Linked DNA regions of Homo sapiens: region 2 is linked to region 1. The links come from fine-mapping of genetic effects on gene expression. Tissue or cell type: whole blood. Region 1 holds a variant in brackets; the other region holds the start of a gene. All regions are shown on one strand. Distances are between the middles of the regions.

Region 1 (2,687 bases):
AGCTACTCAGGAGGCTGAGGTAGGAGGATCACCTGAGCTCAGGAGGTCGAGGTTGTTGTGAGCCGTGATTGAGCCACTGTACTCCAGTCTGGGTGACAGAGTGAGATCCTGTCTCAAAATAAAGTAAGAAAGAAAGAAGCTAAACAAACATCAGTATGGGGATAGATACACAAATTATGGCACTATTATTACATGTAATAATAGTGTTAAACTAAGCATAGTGAATGCCCACCAATTTCAGAGAGTGGTGGTCCCCAGGAAGGGAAGGAGAGGAATAAAAACAAATCAAGAGGACTTCATGTTTAAGTGTTATACTTTATTGTTATTATTATTATATTTAGTATTTTAAATCTATTTTTAAAATTAAAAAAAATTTTTTTTTTTTGCAGAGATGAGCTCTTGCTATGTTGCCCAGGCTATGTTGCTATGTTGCCCATGCCTGTAAGCCCAAAGTGCTAGGATTACAGGCATGAACCACCACATCTGGCCTGTTTTGGGGTTTTAAAAGAGAAACCGAAAGACTGGAAATGTAAGTGAGTGGGTCTCAACTTCCTCTTCTGGAGTTTCTCACTGTCAAGAGATGGGGACAAGAGTCAAGTTATTTAAGGGTGAAATCTGGCAACAGACATGGTGAAGATTGAAAAGCCAGACACATCTCATCAAAGCCCCATCTGCAGTCAAAAGAATGAGGAAAACCATGGGGCCAGGCATGGTGGCTCATGTCTGTAATTCCAGCACTTTGGGAGGCCAAAGTGGGCGGATCACGAGGTCAAGAGATCAAGACCATCCTGGCCAACTTGGTGAAACCCCATCTCTACTAAAAATACAAAAGTTAGCCAGGCATGGTGGTGGGCGCCTGTAATCCCAGCTACTCAAAAGGCTGAGGCAGGAGAATCGCTGGAACCCAGGAGGCGGAGGTTGCAGTGAACTGAGATGGAGCCACTGCACTCCAGCCTGGTGACAGAGCGAGACTCCTTCTCAAAAAATAAAAAAAAGAATGTGGAAAACCAGAGAACTGTAGATTCCTTTTGTTTATTTGTTTGTTTTATGAGACAGAGTCTTGCTCTGTCACCAGGCTGGAATGCAGTGGTGCCATCTCAGCTCACTGCAACCTCTGCCTCCCGGGTTCAAGCGATTCTCCTGCCTCAGCCTCCTGAGTAGCTGGGATTACAGGTGCATGCCACCATGCCCGGCTAAATTTTTGTATTTTTAGTAGAGATGGGGTTTCACCATGTTGGCCAGGCTGGTCTTGAACTCCTGACCTCAGGTGATTGATCCGCCTTGGTTCCCAAAGTGCTGGGACTACATGCGTGAGCCACCGCACTTGGCCAGATTCCTTTTTGAAGGGACTAATTCATACTTAGGTAGGGAAGGAGTCCCTAGGATTTAGAAGACAGAATGAGAGCTGAAAATAATGAAATCTGATTATAAATTGTAAGAAAACAGGGGAAGTAAATATATCATGAAAAGGGTCACC[G/A]ATTAGTTTGGAATCTCACTTATAACAATTCTGCTGAATTGTCTCTTACTTTATGGTTGTCCTCCAGATAAGATGGGAGAAAAAATAAAATAAAAAACTTGTTCAGTTTCTCACAGCATTTATTGGGAGCATTTCAGATTACCTTGAAGGCATCAGTAAGGAATTCTCCATTTTTTTTCTTGGAGAATTGTAAGATGAAATGGAAGATCTATCCCCAAGAAGGGCAGATGAACCAAGTAAGGCAACCCACTCTTGGGCAAGAGGGATCATCTCTGGAGCAAGACTCAGGTGTGATGTTTCCTAACATGAGCGGGGCTGTTGAGTGGAGTGGTCACCGGTAGATTATTTGCAGTCTCTGTGGCCCCTAGGAGCTCAATTTTCAAAGCTGCTCATTAGCTAGATGTGTACAGTACTGTCATTTCTTCCCCTAAGGCAGCTCAAATCCTTAATGAGCACAGGTCAGACGTGAGCACAAAGGGGGAATTCCTGGATGGTTGACTTTCTGACCCCAAGGGACAAGCTGTATGTCATTCTCTTCCAACCACATTTCCTCTTATCCCGAGGGTATCTCATTCTTGGATCCTAGGATCGGACCCCTAGGGAGCTGGTGGAATCCTCCTTAGACAGAATCCCAGCTTTCTCTGAGTCAGAAATTGCTTTTTTTTTTTTTTTTTTTTTTCAAACCAAGTCTCACTCTGCGCCCTGGCTGGAGTGCAGTGGCGTGATCTCAGCTCACTGCAACCTCCGCCTCCCAGGTTCAAGCGATTCTCCTGCCTCAGCCTCCTGAGTAGAGTAGCTAGGATTACAGGCACACACGACACCTGGCAAATTTTTATATTTTCAGTAGAGACGAGGTTTCACCATGTTGGCCATGCTGGTCTCAAACTCCTGACTTCAAGTGATCCACACACCTCGGCCTCCCAAAGTGCTGGAACTATAGGCACGAGCCACCGCACCTGGCATCAGGTATTTCTTTATACCAACACAATAATGGCCTAGTACAGTAAGTTTTTGGAAAAGAAATGGTGACATAATGTTGACAAAATGCAGATAAAGCCCAAACCCAGTCTGAAACAAATGAAGAACAAAACCTAAAGTTGATAGGGTATGAAATGGTGCAGTGATGGTGACAAAAAATGGGGCCTGTGTGGGTTTCTCTTTAAATATTGACCCTAAACTTGGGAAGACAAGGGGAAAAATGTCTGCATTC
Region 2 (2,687 bases), 190 kb after region 1:
GCCTTAGATTCCCCGACCCCAGATCTTGGTGTTTTCACTTTTAGGAAGTCCGCATGAATCTTATCTATGCTCTTAACTACGTCCTAATTTTTGTGTTTTTTGTCTTTTTTATAGGAATAGGGTTTTGCCATATTGCCCAGGCTGGTCTCGAACTCCTGAGCTCAAGTGGTCTGCCTGCCTCAGCCTCCCAAAGTGCTGGGATCACTGGCGTGAGCCATCAGGCCCAGCCTCTATGTGCTAATTTTTGAACAAATTCCAATAGGAGCATTCTAGTCTCTGAGTGTGAGATGACCAAAAATCAAGCCCTTGTGAGGCTGAATAGAGTCGGGAGGCAGGGAACTTAAGGCTGTTTCAGGCCGACTTCCTAGAACTAAATTGAAAGGAAAACCCTCACTTTCCTCGCCTAAATAACAAAAGGACCAGAGGCTACTCCCTTTGACCTTTTCTGCTGGCAGATAGGAAATTGGCTGTCTGCAACAAATCAGACTGATGGCCGGTTGAGTCTTCATTTGCATAGAAGTGTAACTTTGTAACGTCGTAACTTCACCCTAGCCTTTGATTGGTTGCTTTTTGCAACCAATCAGATGTTTGCACAGGAGTGTGACCTTTGTAACTTCAGACTCTGGTTGGCTGCTTTCTGCAACCAATCAGACTGAACGCGGGCTACCGCTTCATTTACAGGAGGTGAGCATGAAGTGGCCAATGGGAAAATTCTAGGAGGTATTGGGACTCATGAAGGTTCTGTTTCGGAGCCCTTGAGCTGCCGCTTGGCCAGTTCCCACACTGTGGAGTATGCTTTCGTTTTCAACAAATCCCAGCTCTTGTTCTTTTGTTGCTTCATTCTTTCTTTGCTTTGCTGGGCGTTTTGTCTAATTCTTTGTTCAAAACGCCAGTAACCTGGACAGCTTGCAGTCAAGACCCCCTACCGGTGACACTTGCGCTCTTCGGGGAGGTAAACAGCATTTCCTCTCAGCTCTGGGTTGGAAAAAGCCGCAGCAGCTGATGGGCCCGGGAACCCGAGGCCCCGCCCCCTAGGTGGTCCTAGCCTTTGCGCGTGCGCGGCGTGTCTGCGTGGGCGCATGCGCATAACGGCCGCCATCTTAACAGCGCGTTCCCGTTGGCGTCTGAGGTAAGTTTTTGTTTCTGGGCGGCGTTCGGTGGTGTCCCGGTGCAGCCACGCGAGAGTAGAAGGGTGGAAAGGGGAGGTGCCCAGTGAAATGGAGCCTGTCCCGTGCACTTTCGGGCATTTCGAGCATCTTGTGGGCTCTCCCAAGTCGCGGCCCCTCCTCTGAGAGCCACAGTCAGGTCTGTCCTCAGGGGTCGAGGCGGCTGCGCTGGGGCCTCGGCCCGGGAGGAGGCGGGGGGCACGGCCTTTCCATTTTCCCTGCTCCCCTCTGCAGAAGCCTCATAGGGCCCGGCGCGGCGGCTCACGCCTGTCATTCCCAGCGCTTTGGGCGGATTGGGTAGGAGGATTACTTGAGGCCAGGAGTTCAAGACCAGGCAGGGCAACATAGGGAGACCCCCCCCCCCAACCATCTCTAATGGAAAAAAAAAAAAAAGTCTCCACATCCAGCGTTGTGCCTTTTCTCTATAAGGAACAGCATCTCTGCCTTCCTGTTCACGGTGACCTTCGCTTGGTGTCCTCCTGGCCTCAGCAACCTGACAATTCTGTCGTGTCCCGGTGAGCACTTCATGCACTTGTTCTGGCTGTGGGTGTCGGGTCTTGAAGTTTAAGTTGTGTCGAGGTGGAAAGAAACCTTTTCAGGTGGTTGTTCGAGAGCACATGGATCTGATACCATCGAATGCATGAGTGGATGAATGCACATAACTGTAAAATTTACCACCAAGGAAAAACACAGGACTACTCAACTGTGGTTCCAGGCCATCACCTAGATCTCACTCTAGCGCCCTGTAGATTCCCCCAGAGGTTCAAAACGAGGGCATCCCCAGGAACACGGTGCGGGCTGATTTACTAGCAGGAGGGATTGAATTGATAATGAATGCGAAGATAACTTTTGACAGGTGGGTTTTCTACCAGTTACTCATTTGAAAGTCTTACTGAGGGCGGGGCAAGGTGGCTCACACCTGTAATCCCAGCGTTTTGGGAGGCTGAGGCTGGAGGATCGCTTGAGCCCAGGAATTTGATGCCAACCTGGAAAAAATAGGGCAAGCCTCTGTCTCTACTAAAAATAAAAAATTAGCTGGGCATGGTGGTGTCTGTGGTCCCATCCACTTTGGAGGCCGAGATGCGAGGATCACTTGAGCATGGGAGGTCGAGGCTGCTGTGAGCCATTATTGTGTCACTGCATTCCAGCTTAGGCAACAGAGTGAGACCCTGTTTCAAAAAGAAGAAAAAAAAACAAATACTGATCTAGAGAACATCTGTAGCTCGAGTAAAACAAATGTCTTTAGTCCAGGTGTGGTGGCTCACGCCTGTAATCCCAGCATGTTGGGAGGCTGAGGCTGGCGGATCACGAGGTCAGGAGTTTGAGACCAGCCTGGCCAACATAGTGAAACCCCGTCTTTACTCAAAATACAAAAAATTAGCCGGGCGTGGGCACCTGTAATCCCAGCTACTCAGGAGCCTGAGGCAGGAGAATCGCTTGAACCTGGGAGGCAGAGGTTGCAGTGAGCCAAGATTGCACCCTTGCATTCCAGCCTGGGCAACAGTGCGAGACTCCGTCTCC

What was found. PIP is the estimated chance that this variant, and not a neighbour inherited with it, causes the effect.
Region 2: it holds the start of ZNF559, and the variant in region 1 is fine-mapped to the expression of ZNF559 in whole blood (INTERVAL, PIP 0.99).

Annotation. Positions count from the first base shown.
Region 1 is chr19:9,130,647-9,133,333 of GRCh38, forward strand. No RefSeq gene overlaps it. Among named protein-coding and RNA genes, the nearest start is that of OR7G3, 5.0 kb to the left of the region's middle. The variant G/A (reference allele first, on the strand shown) is at 1,478.
Region 2 is chr19:9,323,100-9,325,786 of GRCh38, forward strand. It overlaps ZNF559 (zinc finger protein 559), which reads left to right and starts at 1,080. Exons shown (of 7, transcript NM_032497.3): 1 at 1,080-1,129; 2 at 1,596-1,681. It overlaps ZNF559-ZNF177 (ZNF559-ZNF177 readthrough), which reads left to right and starts at 1,080. Exons shown (of 13, transcript NM_001384659.1): 1 at 1,080-1,129; 2 at 1,596-1,681. RefSeq lists an enhancer at 924-1,173 and a silencer at 1,344-1,483.